3 linked regions of the Homo sapiens genome follow. The protein of the gene in region 1 interacts with the protein of each later gene in a pairwise test. Each region holds a gene or a part of one and is shown on either strand. Other genes may lie near its edges. The genes, in order: AQP7, MEP1B and PLIN1.

What was found.
Region 2: the proteins of AQP7 (region 1) and MEP1B interact in a protein complementation assay, tested with the Homo sapiens proteins (one study listed by IntAct).
Region 3: the proteins of AQP7 (region 1) and PLIN1 interact in binary tests that used the Homo sapiens proteins (3 or more experiments, as listed by UniProt).

Annotation. Positions count from the first base shown.
Region 1 is NC_000009.12:33,397,859-33,407,890, forward strand, and holds the start of AQP7 (aquaporin-7), read right to left. Parts: upstream 4,711-10,032; 5' UTR 4,515-4,710; intron 4,291-4,514; exon of another isoform or gene 3,663-4,290; intron 3,430-3,662; 5' UTR 3,405-3,429; coding exon 3,379-3,404; intron 1-3,378. UniProt on the Homo sapiens protein: Aquaglyceroporins form homotetrameric transmembrane channels, with each monomer independently mediating glycerol and water transport across the plasma membrane along their osmotic gradient. Could also be permeable to urea.
Region 2 is NC_000018.10:32,198,227-32,207,987, forward strand, and holds part of MEP1B (meprin A subunit beta isoform 1 precursor), read left to right. Parts: intron 1-4,666; coding exon 4,667-4,784; intron 4,785-5,955; coding exon 5,956-6,134; intron 6,135-9,025; coding exon 9,026-9,244; intron 9,245-9,761. UniProt on the Homo sapiens protein: Membrane metallopeptidase that sheds many membrane-bound proteins. Exhibits a strong preference for acidic amino acids at the P1' position. Known substrates include: FGF19, VGFA, IL1B, IL18, procollagen I and III, E-cadherin, KLK7, gastrin, ADAM10, tenascin-C.
Region 3 is NC_000015.10:89,668,157-89,677,917, forward strand, and holds part of PLIN1 (perilipin-1), read right to left. Parts: intron 9,348-9,761; 5' UTR 9,334-9,347; coding exon 9,289-9,333; intron 5,259-9,288; coding exon 5,054-5,258; intron 3,409-5,053; coding exon 3,326-3,408; intron 2,089-3,325; coding exon 1,824-2,088; intron 1,517-1,823; coding exon 1,344-1,516; intron 1-1,343. UniProt on the Homo sapiens protein: Modulator of adipocyte lipid metabolism. Coats lipid storage droplets to protect them from breakdown by hormone-sensitive lipase (HSL). Its absence may result in leanness. Plays a role in unilocular lipid droplet formation by activating CIDEC.

The sequences.
Region 1 (10,032 bases):
ACAGCTGGCAAGACACAGTAAGCAACAGATAACCACCAACCAGCCAATGAACTCAAGATTTCTTGAATCTACTGTGCCTAGAATGTTCAGACACTGCAGTAAAGGACACTGGTACGATCCAGCCCGTGGGAAGAAAAGCAATCAATTGAGCAATTACTATGCAGTGTGATGAGCACTGCCCCAGCTGAAAGAGTGGGCACCGTGGGGCATGTGGAGGAAGTGAATGGCCTAGAGGAGGGGGTAGGAGGCTCCCAGAGAAAGGGAAATTTAGGTCAAGAAAAGAAGGCTGGAGGGTAAAGGAGCCTCCAGGGAGGCAGGGATCACTCTGGGCGTAGGACTGGCATGTGCAAAGGCCTGCAGCTAAGGCAGTATCCAATGTGCAGGAATGGGCTGGCCACGGAGGAGTGGAGGTGGCATGAGATGGGCAGAGAGGGGCCAGGGCCAGGTGGCAGAAGGCCTCATGGCCCACATTAGGGAGTCTGAACTCTACCAGAGGGCCATGGGCCAAGTGGAGGGTTTCAGCAGGAGAGCTGCCTCCCCTGTGGAGGCCAGGATGGAGGAAGTGGAGTGGAGGCAGGGTGAGCATCAGCTTCTCCACAGATGGGTGGAGAAGTGGCGGCAGCCTGAGCCACAGAGATGGCAGCGCCAATGGCCAAAAGAGCACAGTCAAGCTGACAGGCTTGGTGTTTGGTTAGAGAGGGAAGAGAGCGGGGCAGCTCAGCGATGCCCTCAGGTCCTGGCTAGGGCAGGTCCTGACTAGTGTGGGGCGCAGCAGAGAAGCTGTGGGAGAATGGACAAGGAGGCCCTTTCTGGGCATGTTGAGTGTGAGGAGCCCGCTAGACACTTGGGTGGGATGGCCAGTGAGGAGGCAGCTGGTCATGTGGTCTCACTTACAGACACATTTGGAGGACAGCAAATCACAGATGGTCATCTGAGCCATGGGCATAGATGAGAGAGCTCAAGGAGAGGGTACAGACTAAGAAGAGGGGCCCAAGAAAGCCAGCCTACAAAGCAAGAAACTGGCAGCCAACCAGATTCCCTAAGTAATCTGCTAACCAAGGAACTAAATAGCTAACAGCTCACTAAAAGCCTGTTTCTTTTCTTTTTCTTTTTCCTTTTTTTTTTTTTTTGAGACAGGGTCTCACTCTGTCGCCCAGGCTGAAGTGCGGTGGTGGCACAGTCACAGCTCACTGAAGCCTAGACTTCCCAGGGTTCAAGCAATCCTCCCGCCTCAGCCTCCCAAGGTGCAGGGATTTCAGGCATGAGCCACCACGCCTGGTGGCTTACTAACCCTTTGACTAACCTATCAAAAACCAACTAACTGATTCTCCTGTTAACCAGCTATTAACTCATTTAATTATCTAATCAACCAGCCAACCATAAACTATCCAACTAACCACGAGCCAACAATTCAACCTGCTAACCAACATTTCTTAATTCAACAAACATTGGTTGGCCAGGCATGGTGACTCATGCCTGTAATCCCAACACTTTAGGAGGCCGAGGCAGGTGGATCACTTGAGGTCAGGAGTTCAAGACCAGCCTGGCCAACATGGCAGAACCCCATTTCCACTAATAATAAAAAAAAAATTAGCTGGGCATGGTGGCAGGCACCTGTAATACCAGCTGGGGGGGGAGGGGCTGAGACATGAGAATCGCTTGAACCCAAGAAGCAGAAGTTGCAGTGAGCCGAGATCATGCCACTGCACTCCAGCATGGGCAACAGAGCAAGACTCCATCTCAAAAAAAAAAAATTTTTTTTTGTTGAGCATCTACTTATGAGTCAAGCACCAGGGATACAAAGTCAAAACCCACTCTCCACCCTTGGGTCACTCTGTTTAATGGAAGAGATGGGTAATGGCAACAACACCAGAGAGAAGCAGCCTGGGACTGGGGGAGCTCAGGGAAGGCATGGGAGGTGAGGCCTGAAGGGGGTTTTGAAGAATGGGCGGGTGGTGGCCTGACATGGCCATGGGGGAGTAGGGTGGTGGTAGAAAGAATGGTGGAAGCTGTGCACATTCTAGATATTTTAGGAGATTGGTGACTGGATGTGAGACATGGGGGAGAGGGAAGTATGAAGGACATGACCTTGACTTCTGGCTTGAGCAACTGAGGAGAAGGGGACCCCTGACTGAGCCAAGAGCACAGGAGGAGTGGACTTGCAGGGGGCGGAGGAGGCTGTTTCCATCTAGGAGCTGAGTTGCCTGTGAGACACCAGTGGGTCTCTAGAAACAGGATCTAAAGCCCTGGAGAGCGATGTAGGCTAGAGGCAATGATGTCAACAGAGTGGCACTATTCATTCTCTCCGTCCAAGTGTACAACAGGCAAATATCCCTGCTTGCGTGGAGCTGACAGCAATGAAATGTAATAAGTAAGTACATTTGTATAAGCGAAGGTACCAGCTCCTACGGAAAAAAACAGAGCAAGGAGAGGGGAATTGGGAGTGCAGGGGCTGGAGATGGGGTGTGATTTCAAATAGGGCAGCCAGAGTAATCCTTGTTGAGAAGGTGGCCTTGGAGCAAAGCCATGAAGGAGACGAGAGTGGGCTGTATGTTAGCTGCAGAAAGCCTCTCAGGTGGAGGGAGACTAGTCACCAGAGGACTCTCAGCATGTTTGAAGAAAGCAAAGAAAGTCAGTGTGAGGCCAGGTGCAGTGGCTCACACCTGTAATCCCAACCTTTTGGGAGGCCAAGGCGGGTGGATCACCTGAGGTCAGGAGTTCAAGAACAGCCTGGCGAACATGGCGAAACCCCATTTCTACTAAAAATACCAAAATAATAATAATAATAATTAGCTGGGTGTGGTAGTGTGTGCTTGTAATCCTGTAATCACAGCTACTCAGGAGGCTGAGGCAAGAGAATCGCTTGAACCCGGGAGGAGGAGGTTGCAGTGAGCCAAGATCATGCCATTGCACTCCAGCCTGGGCGACAGAACTGGATTCCATCTCGGAAAAAAAAAAAAACCTGAAAAGAAACTCAGTGTGGCTGGAGGAGGGAGAGCAGGGGGCTGGAGTGGGGAGGCCAGAAAGCTAACAAGGCTGGGCCTTGGCCATTGCAAGGACTGGCTCTTGTTCACCCCAAAGACAGCTGAGCCTGAGAGGGTGAGAGGTGCTGAGTGCAGTTGAGTTGAAGGCCACCTGCATGCCTTGACCCTCATCCAAGTATTTCTGAGCCTCCCCTCACCCCAGGACCCAGCCCAGGCAACAGGTGGAAGATGCTCTTCTTCTGGGACCTCAGAGGCGAGTGGGTGGGTGGGGAGGAGGAGGTCGAGTGGGGACAGCTGCCCCAAGGGAGAGGCTGAGGATGGAACAGGGAGGGCACTGAAGTGGGCTGGGTGAAGGACAGGGGGCTGGAGGGTGAGAAGAGGGTGGGGTACTTACCGCCTGTGCCCGGATGCTTGAACCATGTTTTGTCTTTCAGATTTGTAGATGCTGAGGAGCCAAAGAGAGGTCACTAGGGCTGGAGGACACAGAACTTGGCCCCACACTTCCATCAGACCTTGGTCCCCAGGGGAGAAGCCCTGGGGCAGCTCCTGCTAGTGCCACTCCCTTAACCCAGCCAAGGAACAGGGAGGGAGGAGCGGTGCTCAGCCAATGAGGCGACGCCCTGGAGCCCCACCCCACCCATGCTGGCCCCAGGACCCCAGCCCCAGGCCAGACCCTCCAGTGCTCCTGCTGACCTTCCGTGTCTGCAGCCCGGCTTTGGACTGTGGAGATGCCCTCAGCCTCTACTCAGTGGCTCCAGCCTCATATTTGCGTGCTATACCTTTAACCTCAAGTCCTCTTGCTGCTAACTTAAGCTGCGACTGTCCAGGACCTGCACACACACACACATGCACGCATGCACACACACACACACAGAAGGTGAACACACAGGATGAGGCCCTGAAAACTCATTTCACCCGTGTACCTCACCCAAAAATTCCCCTTTGTACTCCTATCTTTATCTCTAACTGACAGCATGAAGGTAGCCCGAAGTCCCCTCACCCTGTCTGTCCTCCTGATTCTCTAGCCCAGTTCCCTCTAGCTCCAGCACAGACTCTTATCTCCAGCCCTGACTGCCGAAACCCTCCAGCCCCAGCTCCAGCCCCTCAGGAGGGGACTGCGTGGGAGGAATGACTCCAGCAAGCCGGCAGCTGACCCGTCTCCTGCCTGCACGCCTCCCGCTGTGGTCCACTGCCGGTGGTCTTCAGCTCTCTCCTCGTCCCACCCCCATGGTCTGCTGACAGCCCAGCTCAGTGCATCCCTGCCATCTCTGCTCTACCGCTGGTCCTCCCAACAACCAACTTACAGGTAAGGAAACTGAGGCCCAGAGAGAGGGTGTATGTGCCTGTGTCACACAGCAACACAGGACTGCACCATAACAAGAAAGCCGGGACTTCCACTCCCAGACGGGGCTCCTTCCCCAAACAATCCCTCAGTCACCTCCTCCCTGTATGGTACCCAGGGAATGGCCCTTCCAGATCTGGGCGCTGAGGAGGCTGCCCCATCCCCACCCTGCCTGGAGCCCCACTCACTCTGCTGAAATGTCTCTGATTCTCAGCCTCCGCCTTGGGGGCTTCTCAGTTACAGCGCATCTTGATCTTGTTCCTCCGTGACTGTCCCTGGCTCAGCTTCCACCCCCAGCTGGGGCTCAGCTATCCCTGTGTCCCCAGTCCAGAGCCTGCCTCTCAGCTCTCCCAGGGCGGCCTCGAGCGCTGCTCCTGCTCCTCCAGGGGAGAGGTCAGTAAGGCAGGGGTTTGGCTGGTGCCACTTGAACCAAGTCCAGATGCACTGCCCAAAATAACATCCCTCGTCCGGCCAGCAGTGCCGTGGAGACCGAGTTCTGAAGCAGGCCTTTGTGAGGTCAGAGGTGGAGCTCTGGGTGGGCACTCTGGGCCTCTCAGTCCCAGAGGAAAGGCCTGTCCTCCAAGCCAATGTGCAGCCTGACTCTGGGGCCAGCGCCTGAGGAAGCCCTCCCTGAGCCCCAGCCCTGGGGAAGGCTGAAGAGGCCTCTGAGCCCCCAGCGCTGGGGAGAGCTGTGCAGAATAGGACTGGAGGTGGAAGTGTTGGAGATTAACAGCCAGGTGGAGGGGACGGGGGAGGCCCTGGGTCAGTCCTCAGGGAACCCCCATTGTGAAGGGGGAAAGGGAAACTCAGGCCCAGTCCTCAGGGGCCCCCAGTCTGAGAGGAAGGAGGACACACGAGCCATATTTGCAGAGAAACACCAGCCTGCGAGAGGAGGTAGAAGCCCAGGCCTGGCCCTCCGAGGGCCCCTAGTCTGAGGAGCAGTCCACCTGTCCTCGGGAAAACACCTCCCTTAGGAAAGGCCAGCAAGGCCCCCGTAAAGGACCCAGAGCTGGATCGGGACATCGGGCTCGGGGCTCAGCGGTGTGGGAGCTCCGGGACCGAGGTGCAGTCAGGAGAGACCCTGGGGGCCAGCAGCAGTCCCAGAGGACTTTTGGAGCCAAGGCCTGACTGGGTCTCAAACAATGGGGCAGGCAGTTTGGGGTTTCAGCAGGTGGCCCAGTGCTGAGACACAAGGGAGGTGTTTCTGGTCTGCAGACACTGAGGACGCTTGCTATGTGGCGTGGTGGACGGTGGGTAAGTCCTGGGAACTTCCGGCACCAGGCTCCATGGGTGGGAAGGGGCATAAGATTCAGTTGTCCAAAGCTCAGGTCTGGGAATGGAACTGTCCTGTAGAGGGTGCCAAAGACCAGGTCTGGAACCTGCATAGCCCCAGTCCCCACCCCTGCACACACCCTCCCACCCCTTCCAGCTTTTTCTGCAGATCTTTCTGCAGGGGTGAGGCAGGGAGAGGAAGGGGTCGGCCACAGTCCCGGGGCTTCCTAGTCAGAAGCCCTCTGTAAGGCACTAACTTCCCTCTGCAGATTCTTTTTTTTTTGAGACGGAGTCCCGCTCCGCCCAGGCTGGAGTGCAGTGGCACAGTCTTGTCTCACCACAATCTCTGCCTCCCAGTTCAAGTGATTCTCCTGCCTCAGCCTCCCAAGTAGCTGGGATTACAGGCATGCACCACCAAGCCCAGCTAGTTTTTTTGGATTTTTAGTAAAGACGGGGTGTCACCATGTTGGTCAGGCTGGTCTCGAACTCCTGACCTCAGGTAATGCACCCGCCTCGGCCTCCCAAAGTGCTGGGATTATAGGTGTGAGCCACTGCGCCCGGCCTCCCTCTGCAGATTCTACGTGGGCTCAAGATTCAGCCTTTCTTCCTCAGGAAGGGAGGGGTGCACGCTTGGAAATGGGAGAGTCCTGCCTTTTTTCCTTTCCCATGTGTGCTCCCAGGGCCGGGATGAGGTCATGTTAGAAGTGGATCTGGGGTCTTGGATGAGGTCAGCACTTGGGCAGAGTTGGAATGGGCTGGTGTCAGGTTGGTGAGGGAGGGAATTGGGATCCATGCTGGGGTCAGAGATCAGGCTCTAAGCTCTTTTACAGGGCTTGACCCTGGGGACTGAGAGGTGGAGAAGACACAGTCCCATCTGTCTCACGGCAGAGACAGGTAAGCAGCAGGTGACTTAGGACACACCAGATAGGCTGGAAGGAATACAGACGGGGCTATCCCAAGCTGGAGGGGTACAAGGGTCTTCCGTTAGAGGTGACGTGGGAACTGAGTTTTCCAAAACGAGCAGGGGGATGGGGCACCGGGGCATTTGAAGCTTGATGGGATTGTGAGAAAACCTGGGAACTGCGAGTGACTTGCAGAGGGCTGCGGAAGTGGGCAGGGATAGACCATGAAGGGCTTTGTCAGCCAGGCCAAGGAGTTCTGACTTTAACCCGAGGGCCTGAGGAGCCTGCAAAGGGTTCTAAACAAAGAGAAGAGCAACAGGGTCAACCTGAGGTCCCTGAGGCCCCAGGGCATCCAGCAGGCAGAGGCGCAGTTGGGCCTGGGCTGGGGAGAGGAGTCTAGCTGGAGAAAGAGAAGAGGAGATATCAGCCCCTGGACATTCAGCACTAGAGTTGCTGGGGCTGCCCAAGAAGCACAGGGAGTGAGGCAAGGGCCAGGGCCAGGATTCTGGGGAAGAAGGATGACGAAGAAGGAGTGGGTGTGGAAGGAGCTGGAAACCCAGACACAGGGCTGCCCAGAGGCTGATGGGAGCCAGTAGGGGGCTGTTGCCCCAGAGTTGGGTGCTGGGAGGGGCTGGCCAGGCAGGTGTTTGCAGACAGCTGCCTGGATGAGCTGGTGGGGATAGAGGGTGGCAACAGCACTGAAGAAGCAGAGGCTGAGGAGGCAGAAAGTTCAACTGCAGAGAGAAGAGAGGCAGCTAAAGGGGCCACCAAGGTGGGAGTTTGGGTCAGAGCTGTGAAGCATGTTAGTCTGCACAGAGCCTGCGGCGGGGGGTCTCTGGGTCTCTGAGCCAGTGGAGATAGTTGGGGGGCAGAGAGGGAGGGGACACCCGGGGTCCTTTCTTCATAGGATGGGCTTGAGTAGAGTTACCAGATAAAATATAAGATGCCCAGTTAAATTTAAATTTCAAAGAAACAATATTTGCCACAACCTTATACCTGGTATACCTTTGGTCTAAACTCAGGCCCTCTTGATGCTTAAACTGTGACTGTCCAGGACCTACACACACACACACACACACACACACACACACACACACACACACACACACAGAGTTTTATTTTTAGCAAATAAAAATATAGCCAGGTGCATTGGCTCACTCCTGTAATCCCAACACTTTGGGAGGCTGAGGTTGGTGGATCACCTGAGATCAGGAGTTCGAGACCAGCCTGGCCAACATGGTGAAACCCCGTCTCTACTAAGAATACAAAAATTAGCCAGGTATGGTGGCAGGTGCCTGTAATCCCAGCTACTCAAGAGGCTGAGACAGGAGAATTACTTGAACCCAGGAGGCAGAGGTTGCAGTGAGCTGAGATGGCACCACTGCACTCCACCATGGGTGATAGAGTAAGACTCTGTCTCAAAATAAATAAATATATAAAAATAAAACAAAATACTTTTTTATTTTATTTTATCTTTTGAGCCAGAGTTTCGCTGTTGTCACCCAGGCTGGAGTGCAGTGGTACAATCTTGGCTCACTGCCACCTCCACTTCCCGGATTCGAGTGATTCTCTTGCCTCAGCCTCCCGAGTAGCTGGGACTACAGGCATGAGCCACTACACCCAGCTAATTTTTGTATTTTTAGTAGAGATGGGGTTTCACCATGTTGGCTAGGCTGGTCTCAAACTTCTGATCTCAGGTGATCCACCCGCCTCGGGCTCCCAGAGTGCTGGGATTACAGGCGTGAGCCACCGCACTTGGTCTAAAATACTTTTTTCATTCAAACATTTGTTAAGAATATCTTTCTATGACAGTAGGTCCATGTCCACCTCATGCCTGTTGTACAGCATTCCACCTGATGGAGATTATATAATAAGGAATCCTTCTATTGATGAGCGTTTAGATTGTCTCCAATTTTAAATGGACCCAACACTTCTCTATTGTGAACAACATGGGATAAACACAATTGGCTGAAACTCAATTAAGGATGAAAATGCAAATCGAAATTTTAAAATATCAGAATGAAGAAACAAAAATGACTAAAGGTGCTAAAAACTGTCCCCGAATGTCCCCCAAAGTGTTGACACACGCACAAAAACTAAACATTTTGATTAATTATTTGTTTCAATCAACATGCCATTGGATTAACTTATCACAAAAACTGCTTTTCATCACGCTGCTTTACACTTGTGGTTTTTCCGACTCTTTCGAGCCACGGAATCCTTTGCATAACTCAGGAGCCCATGGTATAAACAAGCAAGGAAGGAGCCACTCTGGTTCCAGGCGCAGGGGTGGGGGTAGGAGGGCAGGGCAGGTCCCTCAAGGAGCCCTGGTCTCTCTCGAATCATCTGAAGCCATGAAGGTTCTCAGAATGCCCCAAAAAGAAAAGACACTTAAGCCCCACCCAAGTAAGCATCTCCTTCCAAACTCATTTTTCAGGTAGGAAAACAGATTCAGAGCAAGGTAACAACTTGCCCAAGATCACCTAGAACTAGAACATCCAGACCAGGGCTCTGGCTCACCCCAAGGAGACCAGGGTTCCCCTACTAGGCGGCGAGGCTGGGGAGGGGCAAGGGCAGAGGCAGGACCCAGGAAGGTCTTTAACTCTCACACCCACCAATTACCAGAACTCCCCCTCGCCCCCCGCCCAGGCTCTCATCCTTCTCAGAATCATCCATGGGCCTTCAGGACAGAGCAGATGGAGACCAAGGCAGACAGGATCAGGCACAGCCACTTGTCCAAGGGCAAAGATCCCCTGAAGTCGAGAACCCAGAATTCCAACCTAGGCCTACTCCATCCTAAAAGAGCCTATATGGAGCTGCCTAACTTGGCATCTGAAACCAGGGATTGAGCTCAGACTTGTCACTTTCTAGTATGAGCTGGAGCTATCAGGGAAGGCTTCCTGAAGGAAGAGGGGTCTTATTAACGGAAGCAGCCAGGGAGACAACACTGAAGAAATTTGCATGTGTGAGAAGCATTTGTGTCTTTGTATATACCTATATGTGAGCATGTGCCTGTGTGGATGGACAGGTGTGTGTGTGTGTGTGTGTTGTGTATGTGTGTATGTGCGCACACATGCATCTGCTTATGTGTGTCTGGTCTTGCACGCGGAAGCCTCTCTGTAGTGAGACACACACACACACACACACACACTCCCCAAGTTGTGCACACGTGAACATGCGACCATTCTTCCAGGTTAATATTTCCCTGCCTGCGTCAGCACGGTCCCAGTAAGTGAGCAGCTCCATGCAGGAACGTGCCCTATCTGATCTGGTCAGGGGCTGTGGGTCGGGAACAGGGGGATTAGGGCGGGCAGGGAGCCCATCTCAGTTTCCCCCGGGCAAGCTGCACTCTCTCCACTCTCCTGCTCAGCCAGAGAAAGGAGGTAGCCCCAGTGTAGTGTGACTGCCCGGTCTCCCCACTCACGCTGGGGACTCCCTGATGGAACAGCCTCCTTGCTTGCCTCCACATAGGCCAAGGCCAGCCGTTCCCTGAAAGACCCTCCCGACTCCCTCATCTCTGCCCAAATCCTGA
Region 2 (9,761 bases), on another chromosome or scaffold:
ACATGACCTCCTGGAGCTGGTGCTGCCATGCCACCTCAGCTTTCAGATTCTCCAAGACTTTTTGACTGAGAGAAATGAATGAAGAATGCCATTAATGATGTAGAGCTGCTTCAAGAGGCTGCTCTCAGGTGGCTGGGCCAGGAAACAAGTGGAGCTGATACCAGGTTTACGTTCTTTCTGTTCACCAGGAGGCATTTGTTTCTTTGTGTGAAAGTGCTGTTCACCCATCTGGCCAGCCAGCAACTGCAGCACCTGCTCAGAGGTAGTGCCTCTTCCTAATTGGCACACAGGCACCATGTGGGCTAGTGTGGCCTCTGATAGCAAGGGAAGGGTGCTTTAGCCAGATGCATCACGATCTGCTAAGTCCTGAAGAAGGGAGAAAATCCTGAGCTGGAATTTAGATTGAGAGTGGGGAGCTAGGAAGTTGAGCAGGTAGGCGGAACGCAAATGGGGAAGGACTTGGGTCTTCCCGGTGTTAAAGAACTTGTCGTGTATACTAATAACATGGGGCCACCAAAAGTATTATTGTGGAAGTGAGATTGTTAAAATTGCAGTTTAAAATAATCACTTGGGTTGAAGTATAGAAGATGTGTCATTAGTGGGGTAAAAAGAAGATAGGGAGACCAGTTAGAAAACTACTGAGGAAATTCAGAGAAAGAATTAAGAGATTCCTAACCAAGATAAATCTAAAAGCTATTTGGGATGCATTTGTTAGATTTAGTGATTGACTGTAAGAGGTCAAGAAGAAGGTGGGTGTAGAGAAAGAGATTCTAGTGCTCAGGATTCAGTCCTGGGTAGCTGAGGGCATGGTAACGTCTTCAACAAGAATGGAGAATTTAACCTTGAGGAGCATGAGACAGAGAAGCATGGTGGAAATTAGTTTTTGGCATGCAGAATTTGAAATGCATCAGAGTCACTGTGGTGGAGATACCAAATAAATTCTTGGTATATGACCTGGTCATTCAAGGTCGAGAAATGTTTGGGAGTTATTAGGATGTAAGAGATGGTTGAAGCCGTGAGTATGGATGAGCATTTCACACAGTGCCTTGCATAGAGCAGGTGCTCCATAGATAACTGGATTTTATTGATTTATCCTGGAAGGTTGTGTTGAATAAGTAAGAAGATGGTCGAGAATGAAACTCAGTGCCATTTTTTGGAACTGGTATAGAAGGAAGATCTAGTGGAAGTTATTGAGAAGGGGGAATTGGCCAGAAACATAGATAAAAAACTAACAGTAGGGTAGGGAAAGCCAGGGCAGGAGTAGTTAGCGGGGTTGGAAGCCATAAAGAGCACAGGGGGCATGAGGAGAGAAAGATGTTCATTGACTTTTGGAATTAGGAACCTGAAAGATTTTGAATATACATGTTTTTTTGGTTTAGTCTTTTGATTAAAAAATTTTTAAGTTCTTTTGTTTTAATTCTTCCTTTTTTTCCTTTCGTTCGTTCCTTCCTTCCTTCCTTCCTTCCTTCCTTCCTTCCTTCCTTCTTTCTTTTTTGAGACGAGTTCTCACTCTATCACCCAGGCTTCAACCTCTGCCTCCCAGGCTCAAATGATCCTCCCACCTCAGCCTTCCAAGTATCTGGGACCACAGATGCATGCCACCATGTCCAGCTAATTTTTTGTATTTTTGGTAGAGATGGGGTTTCACCAGGCAATCCACCCACCTCGGCCTCCCGAAGTGTTGGGATTACAGGCGTGAGCCACCACATCCAGTTATATTTCTTTTTTTAAAAAACTTATTCTCCTAAGTATGTTCCATGAAAGATTAGGGAGCTTTAATTTTATATATATCTTAGGCTATTTTTTTTTTGCCATGTATTTAACCATGAGCTTTATTTATTTTTTAAACAACATTATAAACAACATAATGAATGCCTTGAGGATAAGAGCTATTTTTCATCTTGCAAATTGGAGGATTACCATAGTCTCTGGCGTATTATATGTAATAACATTTTTGAAATAAATTGATAAGCATATGTATATATATAAATGAAAAATGTTAGGTAAAAATTCAGCCTAGATCCTACCATCCAAACTGTGCACATTTTTACATAGTTATAACTATGATGTCTTAAATCTTTTGTTCTAATTTTTTCACTTAATGTTATTGCATTTTTTCATATTGTATAGTCTTTATAATAGAATCAAACTTCAAATTTTTATAGAACAATTTTTTTCAATTATGTGATTTTGATTATTTCTTATTTAGAAAATACTTTTGTTTAATATTGTAGAATTCAACTTGTTTTCTATGTTCAAATTAAGAAAAGTATCCTTACGTTTCAGAAATGTATACCATCTTCAAATGACTCAGACTAAGAAAATTACTAAGCAAGGCCACTCTTACAGGTAGCAAAAATAAATACCTATGAAGGGTTGATTTCTGGAAGGCCCTATTACTCAGATTCTAGTAGGTCAAACTGTGAAATTCTACCAGTAGGGTTGTAGTCTTTGAGCTTGAACTTCAGATGTTACCTGGCTGGTAGATGCAACTTCCCTGAAAGGAGTAATACTCATAGCAGCCATTTATAGTTTCCAGGGCCTAAGTTATAATTCCTTGCCTTAGCACCAAGGCAGAAAAGGCAGTGGGGGAGGCTGAGGGTAAAGAGTTGGGGATGGAAATGAAGGGGAAGGTGCTAGAAACCTGAAGGGGCTACTAAGGGGAAACAATCCTGAACAGCTGCTTACTGAACTCCTAGGATTGCCAGCAACTTGCCTCATTTTCCAAAGCCTGGCATGGTTCCAAGTGGAGCTTTCTGCATCTATAACGCAAGGTTAACTAAGGCCCTCAGTAAATAAAGGCATATGGAAAACAAAGATCTTATCTTGGTAAAGGGCCTCAGTGTTTATAAAGCTTTCACGTGTTACTTTATTTATTAATTCAAGAAACTATCCTCATTAAGTTTTGATAAATGGCCTAAACTAGTATGCTCTTTTACATTCTGTTTAAAACAGTGATATGGTGGTCAGTATTATCATACCTTATTTGAAGGAAATATTACATTTGAAATAATGACCCAAATATGATACTTATAGGACAGAACATTTTGAACGTTAACAGCCATATGTAGATACACACACACACACACACACACACACACACACACGGCATACTATTTCAGGGTGTTCATAGACCTTCCCATCTCAGCGTCCTCGGATTAAAAGCCCAGCTGTGAGGCTTTAAATACATATTATAGCTTCTCAGATTAAGTATGTGGTGGCAATTTATTTTGATTGCCTGTGATCCAATGTCCAATGGATCCAATTTGTAATCCTCTATTCATTAAAATGATAAAAAGAATAATGATGAAAAAATATTTTGATGACATAATATTTAGTGAAAAAATAGTTGGTAAAATGCTATGTAGATGACTTTATTTTTTATAGAAATATTAACATATGTATGTTATATATGTATTCAAAGGCAAAATGTATGGTAAGGGTGATTGATTATTCCTGGATGATAGGATTTTAAATTTCTTTTTATTCATATCAATTTTTAACTTATTTATAACGATAGTGTATTACTTATGTGGTATTGTAAAAGTCTGAACTTAGTGCCTTTTACAACTTATGGATTTTAGGGTCTTCCCTATGTGAATCCTGTTCTTGATCTTCTTAGACCTGCCTCAACAGAGGCATACCAAGTAATCTTCCTTGAATGTCTATGCAATGGTTACTCTAGAAGGGAGAAAGGAAATGAACATTTGACAAATGCTAATTTTACTTGGAACTTCACCTTTACTTTCTCTTACTATCCTCACAATATCCTGCAAAGTTGATTTTATTTCCTCACTTAACTGATAATAACACCAAAGCTCCAAAGGTTGATTGAATTGGCAAAAGTTTTATGTCAAAAGTGAGTGGTGAGGATAGGGAAGAACTTAGGTGTGTCTGGCTCCAAAGTCCAAGCACTTTCCCCTCTGCCATACTGTCTCCCACCTCCTGGCAGGCTCCCATCTTTCACGTCACTAGGACCTGGCCCATGTGATGCCTCTCCATGTGCATCTGATACAGCCCGTTCCTCCTGGTCACTCACAAGTTTCTTTTCCTGCATGTTGTTTCTTCCACACCTCTGCCTTCTTTGAGCTCCATATCCATATCACTCTTATATCCAGAGCATTGGCTCTTACCCTTATTTTGGGCCCTGAACTCACTTGCAGACCTCATGAAAGCTCTCTCTAGAAAATGCACTTTGCATTTGTAGATATGCACACACACACATACACACTTTGCATACTATTTCAGGGTATTCATAGACTCTCCCATCTGAAGATCCTCAGATTAAAAGCCCAGCTGTGTGGCTTTAAATACATATTATGGCTTCTCAGATGAAGTACGTGATGGTGATTATTTATTTTGATTGCCTGTGATCCAATGGATATGTTCTCTGAGGTAAAGATGCATTTTTATTGTTTAGTAATGCACCATTAGTGAGTGAGTGCTAGAGAAATATAAGGCCAAATAAGGGATCTGAAGAATAAGCAGATACTGTATATGATATTCAATGGGTACTGAATTCTAATTTTTGTAAAAATAAAAGACTCAACATTCATGAAGGGACTAACTCATGATAAGCAATATATTGCAGTGGCCTGCTTCCATGGAAGATTTTTCAGTGGTGATTGTTTTAATAAGCTTATTTTTGTTTGTTTTCTTCCTTCAGAAATGAATGCTAAGGGAGTTATCCTCAATGCATTTGAACGTTATCGCCTTAAAACATGTATTGACTTTAAGCCTTGGGCTGGAGAAACAAACTATATATCAGTGTTCAAGGGCAGTGGGTAAGTTGCAGACTTAGTCTTCTAAGGCATCTAAGGAGAACTCTAGTGCCTGGGACATTACATTGCAGCAATCATCCTAGGCTCTGACCTTTAGGAAGGGGTGGGGACTTTCTTGCTAGTTGCTGGAGAGTAAAAAACAACTGGATCTAGTTTTTGTAGACATAGAAATTATATTCCCATACATGTAACCGCCTTTAGACAAAGTGGAAAGTGGATGGGATTGCATGCCATCAGACCCACAACCTTGTGAATTTCAGCCCGTTTGTAATTTACATACTCTTTATCCCTTTCAAGTAAAAAACATGTGTATTTATGTGTGTCCATGTCTGTGCTTAAGCTTATTTTAACCTAACCACTCTTATTTCTTGGGTTAAGAAGGCGACAGTATTATTTGTCTTGAGCTCAGCAATTCTGAGTGGTTGCTGTCCCTGTAAAACCCTTGTTAATGGGCACAGGCATAACGAGGAGCTCAAAGACTTTGAAATTCACAAGAAAAACCAGGTCTAGACCACCTTGAGGACGATTTGCTCCTATGTAATATTTGGTGTTAGGGCAAGTTCTTTAAAGATCACCTGGTCTGTAAGGTTTTTTAATATTATACAATACCTGGTATATTAGGCCATTCTTGCATTGCTGTACAGAAATACCAGGGACTCGGTAATTTATACAGAAAAGAGGTTTAACTGGCTTTCAGTTCTGCAGGCTTTATAGGAAGCATGGTGTTGACATCTGCTCAGCTTTTGGGGAGGCCTCCGGAAGCTTATAATCATAGTGGAAGGTGAGGGTGGAGCAGGCATGTCGCATGGCAAAAGCAGGAGCCAGAGAAAGAGTGGGGAGGGGGAGGTGCTACACACTTTTAAATGACCAGATCTCATGAAAACTCACTATCGCGAAGACAGCACCAAGCCATGTGTGGTTCGTCCCATGACTCAAATACCTCCCATGAGGTCCCACCTCCAGCACTGGGAATTACAGTTCAACATGAGATGTGAGTGGGGACAATTGTCCAAACTATGTCACCTGGGTTATGAGAGAAACGCACAGTGTTCAGATGTAAGAGCAAAGGTGGGTAATGAAGTGGGTAATGAAGTGGACTAGGCAGTGGCGATTCTGCCCTGAGACCTCAGATTGTAACATTCTCTTCCCCCTTTCTTGTAAACTCTCCTGTAAGCTGCTGGTCTTCAGTAGGAAATAGGCGGGTTGGGAAGCAAGAACTTTCCATCGGGGCAAACTGTGACCGAATAGCAACAGTTCAACACGAGTTCCTCCACGCTCTGGGATTCTGGCATGAGCAGTCGCGTTCTGACCGGGATGACTATGTCAGGATAATGTGGGACAGAATTCTGTCAGGTACATTTCTCTTTTTTTCCTATGTTTTTAGTTAAGGACTGAATTTCTAAGCATGTGTCCTCTCTTGTCATCTGTGGCAACTGTTAATAATTTTAAAACTTTGATGTTTTGATGTCTTAATTCATTCAGCTTGAACTCATTCTGAGTTATTGGAGCACTAGTATTCCAGAACCCATATGAGCTAGATATGCTCTAGAAACTGGTTTTGTGGTTCTTAAAGCATATTCAGTCCCACAATATGTTCATGAGTATTATGTGGAACGGAGTCTGTGGCCAAATTAGTTTTGCAAATCCCCAAGTCTTAGTCCATCTTGCACTGCTATAACAAAACACCACAGACTGGGTAATTTATAAAGAACTGAAATTTATTCCTCATTGTTCTGGTGGCTGGAAAGTCCAAAATCAAGGGGTGGGCATTTGATGAGGGCCTTCTTGCTGTGTCACATACCATGACAGAGGGCAGAGGTCAAGGGAGAGTCAGAGAGAAAAAACAGGACCAAATCTGTCCTTTTACAAGGAATCCACTCCTGCAGTAGCAAACCTACTTCTGCAGCAATGGGATTAATCCATTTATGAGACGGAGCCCATGCCCTAATTACCTCTCATTAGGCCCCACCTCCCAACACTGTTGCACTGGGGATTAGGTTTCCAATACATGCTTTTGGGGGGACATATTCAAGGCATAACACCTAGGTTAAAAGAAATTAGACTTACTTATCCTGCTATACTGCTCTGAGTGTTTATTGGGTTGACAGGAATTGTAAATCTCTAAGAAAAGGAGCATTTCCCAAAATGATTTGATCATGGTCTTCTTTTTTCTTTTTGCAGAGTAGCTTGTAGAGTATTTGGATTTATTGTTTCATGGAACAATTTTCAGTAATAGTTGAGTAGCATGAACTGTTTGTGATTTTGTGTTCAAAGTCACAAAGTCTTAATAACTATGTCTGACTAGAGCTCATGTTTTCCACATTCCACAGTGACACTCAGCTTCCTCATCTGTCCTGCCTGTGTGGGGCGAGACAGAGGAAAGGGCATTGCTATTATGTCTGAGGCACTGTGAGGAGTGCCCTATACAAGGTCCCCTGACACCACACTTCTTGAAATCACAGCTCTTGCTCTTTATCCCCCGACTCTGCTTATCTCAAATGCGGTCAGGCATAGCAGCAAACTAAAAGATTTCTAGAGAAACAGCAGTGTTTAGCTTTAATCCACAGCCACACTCCTTAGGATTCCCAAAGTCTTATTTTTGATCTAAACTTCTGCTCACATTTGATAACACATCTTTATGTTTTGGAGATCAGAACCACCTTAAAGTGTCCACAGAATCATTCCATTTCAAGTTGAAATCAGTTGCCCATTAGTATAATGCTAAATGGCCTGAATGTCTTCTCTAAATATATTCATTTTTGTTTTTTATTATTATTTTAAACTGACAAATCATAATTGTATATACTTATGTGGTACAGTGATATTTTGACATGTGTACACAACGTGGAATGACTAAAACAAGCTACTTAACATAGCCATCACCTCACTTATCATTTTTATGGTGAGACATTTGAGGTTTATTCTCTTAGCAATTTTGAAATATACATTATTATTAACTATAGTCATTATGCTTTATTTATTTATTTATTTTGAGACAGAATCTCGCTCTGTTGCCCAGGCTGGAGTGCAGTGGTGCGATCTTGGCTCACTGCAACCTCCACCTCCTGGGTTCAAGTGATTCTCCTGCCTCAGCCTCCCGAGTAACTGGGATTATAGGCGCCCGCCACCACACCCGGCTAATTTTTGTATTTTTAGTAGAGACAGGGTTTAAACATGTTGGCCAGGCTGGTTCATTGTGCTTTAAATACATCTACACCTATTCCAGTAACCATGAATTATGGTTAGTCAATAACTGCATGTCAATGCTTTTTAATGACTCCTCTGTAGGATAACTAGAAAGTTATCATTCCCAGGTTTCATCTCACCATCCCTTCAAAGCCTTCTTACTTCCATCTCCATCTACTGTGGACGTCCTCAGCCTGCCATCGTTGCTGGCCAATGCCCTGACTGGTTCAACAACACTTTTTTTTTTTTTTTTTGAGACAGAGTCTTACTTTGTCACCCAGGCTGGAGTGCAGTGGCGTGATCACAGCTCACTGCAGGCTCGACTTCCCAGGCTCAGGCAATCCTCCCACCTCAGCCTCCGGAGTAGCTGGGACTACAGGCATGCACCACCATGCCTGGCTAATTTTTAAAATATTTATTTTATTTTATTTTATTTGAGATGGAGTCTCATTCTGTCACCTAGGCTGGAGTGCAGTAGTGCAATCTTGGCTCACTGCAACCTCCGCCTCCTGGGTTCAACCAATTCTCCTGCCTCTGCCTCCTGAGTAGCTGGGATTATAGGTGCGCACCACCACAATGGACTGATTTTTGTATTTTTAGTAGAGACAGGGTTTCACCATGTTGGTCAGGCTGGTCTCGAACTCCTGACCTCATGATCCGCCTGCCTCGACCTCCCAAAGTGCTGGGATTACAGGCGTGAGCCACCACGCCCGGCCTTAAAATATTTATTAGAGATGAGGTCTCACTTTGTTGCCCAGGCTGGTTAGCAGCACTTTCTAGAATCCTCCTTTCCACGAGCAATTTTTACAGCCTTAGACTAAATGCCAATGTCCTAACTATGGGCTGCAATAGAACCTTAGATATGTTCAGTGTGACTGCTGGTATCACAGTTCTAAGCTTGAATATTATATTGTAAGATGGGAATAATGAAACTGTTGTTAGTTGTAGCAAAAATTGCTTGAGTTTATTATATTCTCCATTTCTAAGTGAGCAGTATTTGGAGTAAGATAAGCTGAATTTTGTGAACATCAAGTAAAGATTTTTTATTTATCCTTTAGGCAGAGAGCACAATTTTAACACCTATAGTGACGATATATCAGATTCCCTGAATGTTCCCTATGATTACACTTCAGTAATGCACTACAGTAAAACTGCATTCCAAAATGGAACAGAGCCGACAATTGTCACAAGAATCTCAGACTTTGAGGATGTGATCGGCCAACGAATGGATTTCAGTGACTCTGATCTCCTAAAGTTGAATCAACTGTATAACTGCTGTATGTGACAGGTTCTTTGAAATGACTTATATTTTCCGCTGTTATGTAGGAAAAAATGATGGTCTGTGCCATTTTGTCAAGCATTGGTGGGGTTTCTGCGATTATAGAGATTTGATATTCAGGAAATAAACAGAATAGCACTCAGATCTCAATCTACAACTTGGAAGCAGCATTTTTCTTTTCACCACGTCTGGTGTTGAGATCTAAAAACAAATTGGGTCCTGTAGGAATATGCCTCAGGCAAGTTTTTAAAGCTGTTACTAATTCAAACCTCGGTCAGATTGATACTCACACTTCCTTTTAGCCAAAATGATATGTCTAGTTGTAATATGAATGGGATCAAATAATCTGGATTGTGGCTTAATGATTCGAATAACTAGGGGAGTATAGACTCAGGTTTCTACAAATTAGAAAATTTTTTTTAAAAAAGACTTCAGGCAGGGAGCTTATTCAGATCTACAGAATTCATTACCTTCTTTGTAGGGGTTCTGCAAATAAAGAGGGATCTTTAAGCCAC
Region 3 (9,761 bases), on another chromosome or scaffold:
CATGTAAGTGGAGTCACACCATGTGTATTCATCTATTAATAGCTCCTTTAGTTAAATATGATGGTGTAAGTTTCACCCATGTTGCTGCAAATGGAAGTAGTTCCTTCTTTTTCATTTCTGTGTAATATTCCATCATACGAATTTCCTGTAATTTACCCATTCTACCGTTGATGGACATTATCATCGCTTCCAGTTCTTAGCTAAGGATATTGCTGATCTGAGCATTTTTCACTTGTCTTGGGAGACTTAAGTGCTCATTTCTGTTGGGTATACACTTAAGAGTGGAACTGCTGGGCCATAGGATATATGTATGTTAGCTTTGGTAGATACTCCTCCCAGATCTTTTAAGAGTGAAAAATTCAATGAACCAGAGTGTCCCATGGGAAGAAATTGACTGAGCAAGGGGGCTGGTATCTCCTGAGGCACATTCTAAACCTCTAGGGAGCCCCACAAACAGAGACTCCTTATTACACAGCTTTTGGGGATGCCACTCTATTCCATGCGAATGGTGGCACGTGAGGTTCTGCCCACTGCAGGCGGGGTCCAGGCATGTGACTCAGTCTCAGCTGTTATTGATGCAGGGGACAGAGGGGAGCTACTACTCCTGTATTCCTGCAGGGGCAACACTTGCTTGAATGAATGATCCACGCCTGATGATGCTTTTAAAAGTACTGCTCAAAAGATGGCTGAAAAGTAGTCATCTTGTTTGCTGGCCTTTATGCTTTAGTATTGTTTTATTTTCTTTTCTGGCCTTAGTTTCTTACTAAAATTCCTTATGAAAAACATCCAGCCTATTTCTGCTAAGATACAGAGAGGTGGAGGTGGGGAGTGGTGGGGAGTGGTGGGGAGTTAACTCTCCCTGGGCCTAGAAAGGGCAACTTCACCTTGGGTGCATTGGTGCTGGGTACACTCTCCCTGACAAAATGGGTTGTATACTTTGTTTATTTAAGGATGACAGTCCCTAGTGCTTGCATAGCAGATGGAGGTCCTGCTGTCTTATAGGTGGGAAGACCCATAGAAAGAGGTCCACTTGGGGGTATGAAGGCTGGGGCTTGTGGGAGACTCAGAGGGAAATGGGGGAGATAGAAGTGAGTGGTGGGGAAGGAGCACTCTAGCAAGGCAGGCCTGCCCTTGCTTAACATCCTCTCCCTTCTCTTTCCCTGTGGTCTGGAAGGCCATCCCTCTACCCCTCTCAAGTCCTCTTAGAACTGAAGCCCCAGCCCACGTTGGAAGAGAGAATGTTCTCAGGACAGGAAGGGGTGATGGGTGGGGGATGGGAGGGACTAGGAGGCCCACAGGGCTCCCAGGCACCGGGTCAGTCAGAGCTCACGGCAGATACTTACCAGGGGCACCACGCCTGGGATCCACATGGCCACGGTGTGGCCCTGCTCCAGGGCCCGGGCCATGGTCTGCACGGTGTATCGAGAGAGGGTGTTGGTCAGAGCCCCAACCCTGCTCAAGAGGCTTGGCTTGGCCTTGGGAGACTTCTGGGCTTGCTGGTGTCCAGGAGCAGGGGCTGGGTAGGGATTTGGGGGGAAAGAAGAGAAAACAGGTCAGAGAGGGGCCGGAGAGATCTGGGTCATGTCTAGGACTGGAAAGTAGGTGTTCTAGGTCCACCACAAACTCACTGGTGAGTTCCACAACTCACTTTCCCTCTTTACAGATGGGGTGGGGGTGGGGGGGGTAAATGATTATGAATCCATCTGAAAATCCCACTGGCCTTCCCTATTCCAGAGCAGTGGCTGGTTGAGCCACCTCCTGCTGATTCCCAGGCAGTGTGTGTGACAACTCACTCCCAGGCCGAGCCTCCGAATGGCAGGTACCTGACTCTTCCTTGTCTGGAGGGAGGAGGTACTCCACCACCTTCTCAATGCTGCCCAAGGCCAAGTCGGCCCCTCCAGAAGCCAGTCGGCCAGCTCGAGTGTTGGCAGCAAATTCCGCAGTGTCTCTGGCCACCCCCCAGGCAAGCTCGCACCCGGCCAAAGCGGCCCCCAGGACCTTGTCTGAAGTGCTCGCGATGGGAACGCTGATGCTGTTTCTGGCACTGCGGAGGCGGGTGGAGATGGTGTCCTTCAGCTCAGAAGCAATCTGGGGGAAGTTGGTGGGGGTGTTAGGCATGTGGTCTTGCAGGCCCTACAAGGGCTGCCCTTCCGGGGTCTGGTGGCCTGAGCCCAGCTCCCAGGAAGGCATCACCTAAAGGCCCAGGGAACTGGTACTGATATTTAGGTACCTGGAATTAAGCTGGGCTTTAGAGGAGAGGGCTCCAACCTTCCCTGTGCCAACTGTTTGGATCTCCTGGCTTCTTCACCCCGCATCACAGCCTGTCAAGATCCCTCCCATCCTGTGAGGATGACCCCAAAGGCTCGTCCTTGGTGCCACCTGTCCTGATACCCTTGGGCTCACAAGGAATCTCCTCCATCCTTTCCTCAGAACACAGCATTTCTGTTGATTTATAGGTGTGCTTGATCTTCCTACAAGTTCTGCACTGAAATAATTTGTCTTTTTCTTCATTATTCTGGGAGCTCTTTTGTGACAAAAATGTTGCCTTTTATCTGGAAAAATGGGGAGCAAAGAGCACAGGTCTCACAGCTGAATAGACCTGCTCTCATTGTCCCCACTTAAGGCTGTGTGGCCGTGGGGGAGACACTGGTTTCCTCTCTGTAAAATGGAGATAACAACCCCTATCCCAGAGGGTTGACAAGTGGATTAAAGAAGAGCGCTTGATAAAGCATAGGTGATGGCCCCGGGCATAGGGTAGGGCTCAGTACCTGTTTGTGGGAAGGGTAGATAGTTGGTCAGTGAGATAGATGAGGTCAGAGACTGAAGCTTATTCCCCAGAAGCACCAAAAATGAGTCCTTATCATAGCAACTACCCAATAAATATGTAGCCAGGTAAAGTGACCTTCAATCTCATGGTCCATAAAAGGTTGGATCTTGAGGATATGGGATGACACTCCTGGGATCTGAATGAGTGTGACTCATGATCTTAGGCAGCTGTAGTTGCCAAGTGGTCCAGGGCAGACTATGGAACCTCAGATCCCAGGGTGCGGTATCGGGAGGCAGTGGGACCCGCCTCAAGCTCCTGTTTGGGTTTGCCTCTGGGCTCGTGCCTGCTGGTCCCAGAAACCCCACCTCCGTTTAGCTTCACAGGGAGAAGAGGAGCCTGTTGTGTGGCCTTGGGAGCAGGCACTCTCCGCCAGCCTTGGAGGGTGCTCACCATGGGACACAGACTTCCAGTCACGGCATCAGCAGCCCCTGCCCTCTCCTCCCTGAGAGGCGGTGACGACAGAGTGCAGGGAGGCTTCGAGAGGTGGGAAGGGCTCACCTTTTCAGGGGGGTACTGGAGGGCGGGGATCTTTTCCTCCAGGTGGTCCAAGCCTCGGCAGGCCAGCTCATTGGCAGCTGTGACTGGAAGGAAAGGGCCAAGTTTGGGTGAGCCCTGCCCCTCCCCATGAGAATCTAGCAGTGGCTTCTGTGCCAAGGAAGTGACTTGGAGCCCTCAAATCCCAAGGCCTGCTGCCTCCCCAGCATCTCTGGGCCCCAGGCCCTTTGCCCTCTTTCGCCCTTGTCTGCAGGGACTCCTCAAGACCCGGGCCAGTTTCTTCTGTCTGTGTGGGAACTCTGGAGTCGCTCAGACCTGCACTCAAAAGGCCAAGTGACCACATCTAAGAAGCCTGTGGCCTCAGCTAGTCACAGCCTGTCTGAGCCTCTGCTTCCTACCTTGTAAAAGGTGAATTAATGGTGCCTGCCTGGCAGGATTTTTGTGAAGAAGAATGATGGGAGCTATATGAATCACCAACAAGTACCGTTCTTTCCCTCCTTCTCTTCCTTCCTGACCTGCAAGGGGGCTCTGAGTGAGCATGAGGAGGGAGAAGAGAGGTGTGAGAGGGAAGCAGATGGCAGTGAGGCCTTGGGGCTGGGCCTGCTTAGCTATCAACATGACAAACTCCCAGCACAGCCAGTGCAGGCCCCAGGCCGTCCATGCTCTTCTTTTTAACCACTAGGTGTTGAGATGGTCAACTGTCCGAAGAGGGTCACAGGGAAGGGAAAAGAGTTGCCCCCGGAGAGTGGGCATGCATCAGAGATGCACCTGCTTCAAGGGGATCCCGCCTGGATTGGCCGGGACATCGGCTCTGCAGCCATGGCCAATGGGGGCCACAGCTTTCAAGGAGAGTTCTTCATACTCTTTCATATATTCTTTTGCCAGATACCTTATTTTTCTTCACAAAATTCTCAAGCAGCAGAGAGCCCAGATGACTTGGCTGTCTTCCAGTTGGGCAGAATGAGACTCAAGGAAACTATTTAAGGAGATTGTAGCCAGGGACAGGGCCTGGGCCTACTTCACATCGGTCCTCTCCTGTTTGCTGTGTGGAGTCCTCAGCTACCCATAATTCTGTAATTAGGATGGTGGAAGGTACCAGACTTTTTGGCATTGCTGCGATTTCCCTCAGCCCTGTGTATGCCTTGGAGACCACATTTTCAGATGGGGCAGAACAATTTGAGTGGTGCACATCTGGTAAGGCCAGTAGGAGAGCCATCTTCTGCCTCTAGGGCCCTGGCTGGAGGCTCTCTGCCACCCCCACCCGTCATGAGCCGCTACCATCAGCTGCTGGGCTCAGCCAGCTTTCCCCTCCCTCCGTGCCCTCCGGCCCTGCCAGGCCCCCTAGTGCCGGCTGCCTCTGCCTCTGCCAGACTCTGCTGGTTCTTGCTGCTGCTGCTGCCTGTGCTGCGACAGTGAGTGTCTGGTCTGCCATGGGCCCTACCCTCACCACTGCCTGCACAGCTCTGCCTTCCCTTCCCCTGCAGATTCTCTGGCCATCATTGTTATCCTAGGAAAATGCCAGCTGGGCCATAGATAGGCATCTATAGAAGAAAAGAGATCTGTATGTATACCTTTATAGCCATAGATAAGAAGACCATGCAATGGGATGTGGGCAGTTAAGCAGACAGACAAGCAAGTTATCAGACAGTCAGACAGACTGAGAGGCGGACAGACAGACTGGAAGGTAGGCAGTGAACAAGCAGGCAGCTGCTGAGCGCCGCAAGGACTCACACTGGGTGGACAGCCTGCGGACCACCGGCTCCATGCTCCAGGCAGCCAAGCTACTGGCGCTCTGCACGCCCTTCTCATAGGCATTGCACACAGAGGCCACCAGGGGGTGGGCTTCCTTAGTGCTGGTGTAGGTCTTCTGGAAGCATTCGCAGGTGCCACTCACCACCGGCAGCTGCAGGACCCGCTGCAGCACATTCTCCTGCTCCTGGTGCGGAAGGAACACATTCAAGTTGTCCCACCTCCCTCTCCAGCCTCCCGGGAAGCTGACCCCGGGGTCATGGGGACCAATGGTGCAACTAGCCTGAGTCCAAGCGACCTGGGAGGAACCAAGGCCAAAGAGGTCTCTAGATGCCCCAATCATGGGAGCGTGGGAGAGCCCATGGGGAAAACAAGAGTCAGCCGGCCATGTCCTCCTGGTCACCATCCGGGGTGCTGGAGAGCTGCCAAGGCAATCTCTGTTCTCCAGGGACCAAGTCAGATCCCATCACTCCCACCCCCACCTCAGCTCACTCCCCTGATACCTACTGGTAGAGAGCAAGTGTTGTTAATGTCTAGAGTTTTAGTCCACCTTTGATTGGTGGCTTCTCCAAACATTTTTCTGGTCTTTCTGGGGTACTGCCTCCCTGCCTGTGTATCCCGACCCCACTGCCTAGAACGCTCACCTTCCCTCCCACAGCCCTTGCTGCCTGGCAGAATGCCATTCCTTCAAGACTCTGCTTGACCAGCACTCCCCCTGTGAAGCTTCCAGACTCTCCTCCATCACGTCGGAAACCACTCCCTCCCTGGCTCTCTCCACATTCGTCACACCGTGCTGTGGTTATGTGTGTTCATCTCACTCCCCGTAGACTGTCATCTCCGCATCCCCAGAGTGTAGGCCAAACATGGCACAGTAATATTAGCTGAATACGTGAACCACAGTCAGGGCTGTGCCTAGTAGAATGTGTAGGTTTAGATCTGCCCAACTGCACAGAATCACAGAATCTTAGGGGACTTTGTAGTAAGAATCCTTTCCATCCTTCCTCTGGTCGACTTGTATTTGTTTTTATTTATTTATTATTTTTTATAGAGACAGGGTTTCACTCTGTTGCTCAAACTGAAGTGCATTAGTGCCATCATAGTTCACTGTAACCTCCAACTCGTGGGCTCAAACAGTCCCCACACTTGTGCCTCCTGGGTAGCTGGGACTACAGGCCTGTGACACCATGCCTTGCTAATATTTTTATTTTGTAGAGGAGGGGTCTTGCCGGTCTTGAACTCCTGGACTCAAGTGATCCTTCTGCCTCAGCCTCCCAAATCACTGAGATTATAGGCCTAAGCCATTGCGCCCAGCCAAGACTTATATTTGAATGTCTCCCTGAATGAGAGCTCTCCCCCTCACAAAGTGGCCTGTGTCCCTTGTTGGACAGCTTTGCTGAGCTGAAATTTGCCTCCACCCCCCTGTTCCACACTCTGCCCTCTGGAACAAAACTGAGCAAACCTATTTCCTCATCCATGGGTTGGCCCTTCACATATTTGAAGTCAAATATGTCTCCCTTTAGAAGTGCCGCCATCATGTTAAATGGCTCCAGTTCCTAACTTCGTTTACAAATGGTTCACACTGTGGTCTGGTGACCCCCTCTCCTGGACATGCTACAGTTTTACATTATCTTTCTTAAAAATATACTACCCTCGCTTGAGCCCAGGAGTTTAAGGCCAGCCTGGGCAACACAGGGAGACCCCGTCTCTACAAAAAAAAATAATAAATAATAATAACATAATTAGCAGGGCATGGTGCTGTGTGCCTGTGGTCCCGGCTACTCGGGAACCTGAGGCGGGAAGATCGCATGAGTCCGGGAGTTGGAGGCTGTAGTGAGCCATAATCACGCCACTGTACCACAGCCTCGATGACAGAATGACACCCTGTCTCAAAAAACAAAAAACAAACAAACAACACTCAAAGACAGCACTCTGGGTGCGATCTGCACGTGCTGGGTGTAGTGGAACAATCGTTTATCATTTCCGGGGTGCTGTGCTGTTAGTAATGCACCTTTGGCAGCAGTCACATAATTAAGTTTTAGGTCACCTAGGAACCTTAGTGAAAAAACACTGGTCTTTGAGTAAAAGAATGAATTCTAGGGCTAAGTGTAGAAGCTCATGCCTGTAATCCCAACACTTTGGGAGGCTGAGGCGGGAGGATCATTTGAAGCCAGGAGTTTGAGACCACTCTGAGCCACAAAAAAAAAAAAAAAAAAAAAAAAAGCTGGCCATGCTAATATTTGATGGCATGTGGACTACACAGTCCCAGCTGCTGGGGAGGCTGAGGTGAGAGGACTGTCTGAGACCAGGAGTCCGAGGCTGCAGTGAACTATGACAATGCCACTGCACTCCAGCCGGGGTGACAGAGCAAGACTCTATATCTAAAAAATAAATAAATAAAATTAAAAGAACAAATTCTAGGCATGCAGAGGGAAAGAACATTTGCCAGGTGCCATTATGCTGCAGGCACTGGTCTGGGTGCCTTGGTGACATGAGCTCACTTAATTCTAACAGCCATCCTCTGGGGTCAGCACTGTCACCAACACTGAGTCGATGAGGAGATTGACAATCAGAAACAGGAAGTGATTTACCCAAGATCCCACAGCTGATAAGTGGCAGAGCCAGGATTCCAACACAAGTTGGAAATGGCCTACCTGGGATTACCTTCAAAATAACATGAAGTGGGGGAATTAATGGAAGTGAGGACGAGGCGGGATTGGCCACGAATTCATGGTCTTCGGGGCTAATAAAGGGTACGTGGGGCTTCCTATGTTCTTTTCTGTCTATTCTTATGAATGTTGAGAATTCTCCATATCAAAAGTAAAAAGAAAAAAAAACCCAGGTCAGATTCCGATGCTCAGGCTCTCTGTAGCTTTGAATATGACACTGTGGCATGGTTTTGCTCGCAAAGTGAAGACCTGACCTGTTCTGTTAGTAGGAGGCAGAGTTCAAAGACCCCCATCAATGACACCTACATGTACACTAAGACAGAGCAGCCCACAATATCTTAGTTTTTTTTTGTTGTTTGTTTGTTTGTTTTTTTGAGATGGAATCTCGCTGTCTCCCAGGCTGGAGTGCAGTGGCGCGATCTCAGCTCACTGCAAGCTCTGCCTCCTGGGTTCATGCCATTCTCCTGCCTCAGTCTCCCAAGTAGCTGGGACTACAGGCGCCCGCCACCATACCCCGCTGATTTTTTGTATTTTTAGTAGAGATGGGGTTTCACTGTGTTAGCCAGGATGGTCTTGATCTCCTGACCTTGTGAACCGCCCGCCTTGGCCTCCCAAAGTGCTGGGATTACAGGCGTGAGCCACTGCACCTGGCCAATATCTTAGTTTTTTATCCTGCAGGTGAATTTGAAATTTGAACTAGAAATAGACTATGACTATAAACAAGAAAACATTCTTTTTAACATTTTGGACGAGGCTTCAGAGGTTGTTTTACACAAAACCGAAGGAGGAAAGAGATCCTGGGAAGGGAATAAACCACCGTCTGTTAGAATGGCTTAACCATGTACTTGACCATTTTACGCCTCTCTCTGTTCTATGATTCAATACAAAACAAAGTGATTCCTAGTGCAGGAGTTAGTAAAAGCGTAACTTGGGCAAGGTGGATATTGCACAGGTTCATAATTTTTAAGTTTCACTATCCGAACTGTGCCCAAATCTGAGATGCCTTGCCAGGAGCCATCAAGCATCCCTAAAAGTATCAAATCACTTCAAGTCACAGTGAAAACCAGGTCAGAGATAGAACACCAGACACATGGAATATCCCACCCTTCCCCCCACACAGCAGCACAGGCTGTGCACCGTCTAACTCCGACAGGTGACATTTGCCGTTATGAATGATGCTGGAGACACAGAATACAGTGGCTCTGCACTGAATGCACATCCAGCTGGGTGGTGGACAGAGCATGGGCTTCTGCGTCAGGGTTTAAACAGTAGTTTCCTTCCTCTCCACTCCCCCCGTCCCTAAGCCAGGATTTCTGTCCCTTTTTTTCAAGGTGCTTAATTTTTAATAGGCATCTTTTTTTCCCCTCCCAGATCCTCCAACTGCCCCCTACAAAAGGTGGTGAGGGCAAGAATAACTAAGCCATGGTAGTCAATGAACTAGGATTATAATCTGGGAATATCTTGCTCTAAGTCCCCTGCATCTCCCCTCCCTGCTTCTTCCTCCTCCCTCAGTTGTCCATCCCCTGTCACAGATGAGCCCAAGTTACTTACAGGGAGGTCTCCATCCAGCAAGGTGAGGCCTTTGTTGACTGCCATCCTCGCTCCTCAAGCTGCAAAACAGAGTCCCAGGTCCCATCAGAAGCCCTCAGGCTTGAGCTCCACTGGGTCACTTCCCTACCTCTCATGGCCACCAACTAGGCCCAGGCTGCCTGGGGGCCCATTTGCCCTGAACAGAAGGCATTAGGTTGGAGGGTGAATATCACACACAATAGCCCCACTCCTTAGGGTCCCATAGCAATGAGTTGCTCCATAGCTTACTTGTCAAGACTGATGTTTCTTTCTTTTTCTTTTCTTTCTTTCTTTTTTTTTTTTTTTGAGATGGATTCTTGCTCTGTTGCCCAGGCTGGAGTGTAGTTGCACAATCTCGGCTCACTACAACCTCCGCCTCCCGGGTTCAAGGGATTCTCCTGCCTCAGCCTCCCAAGTAGCTGGGATTACAGGCGCCCACCACCACGCCCGGCTAG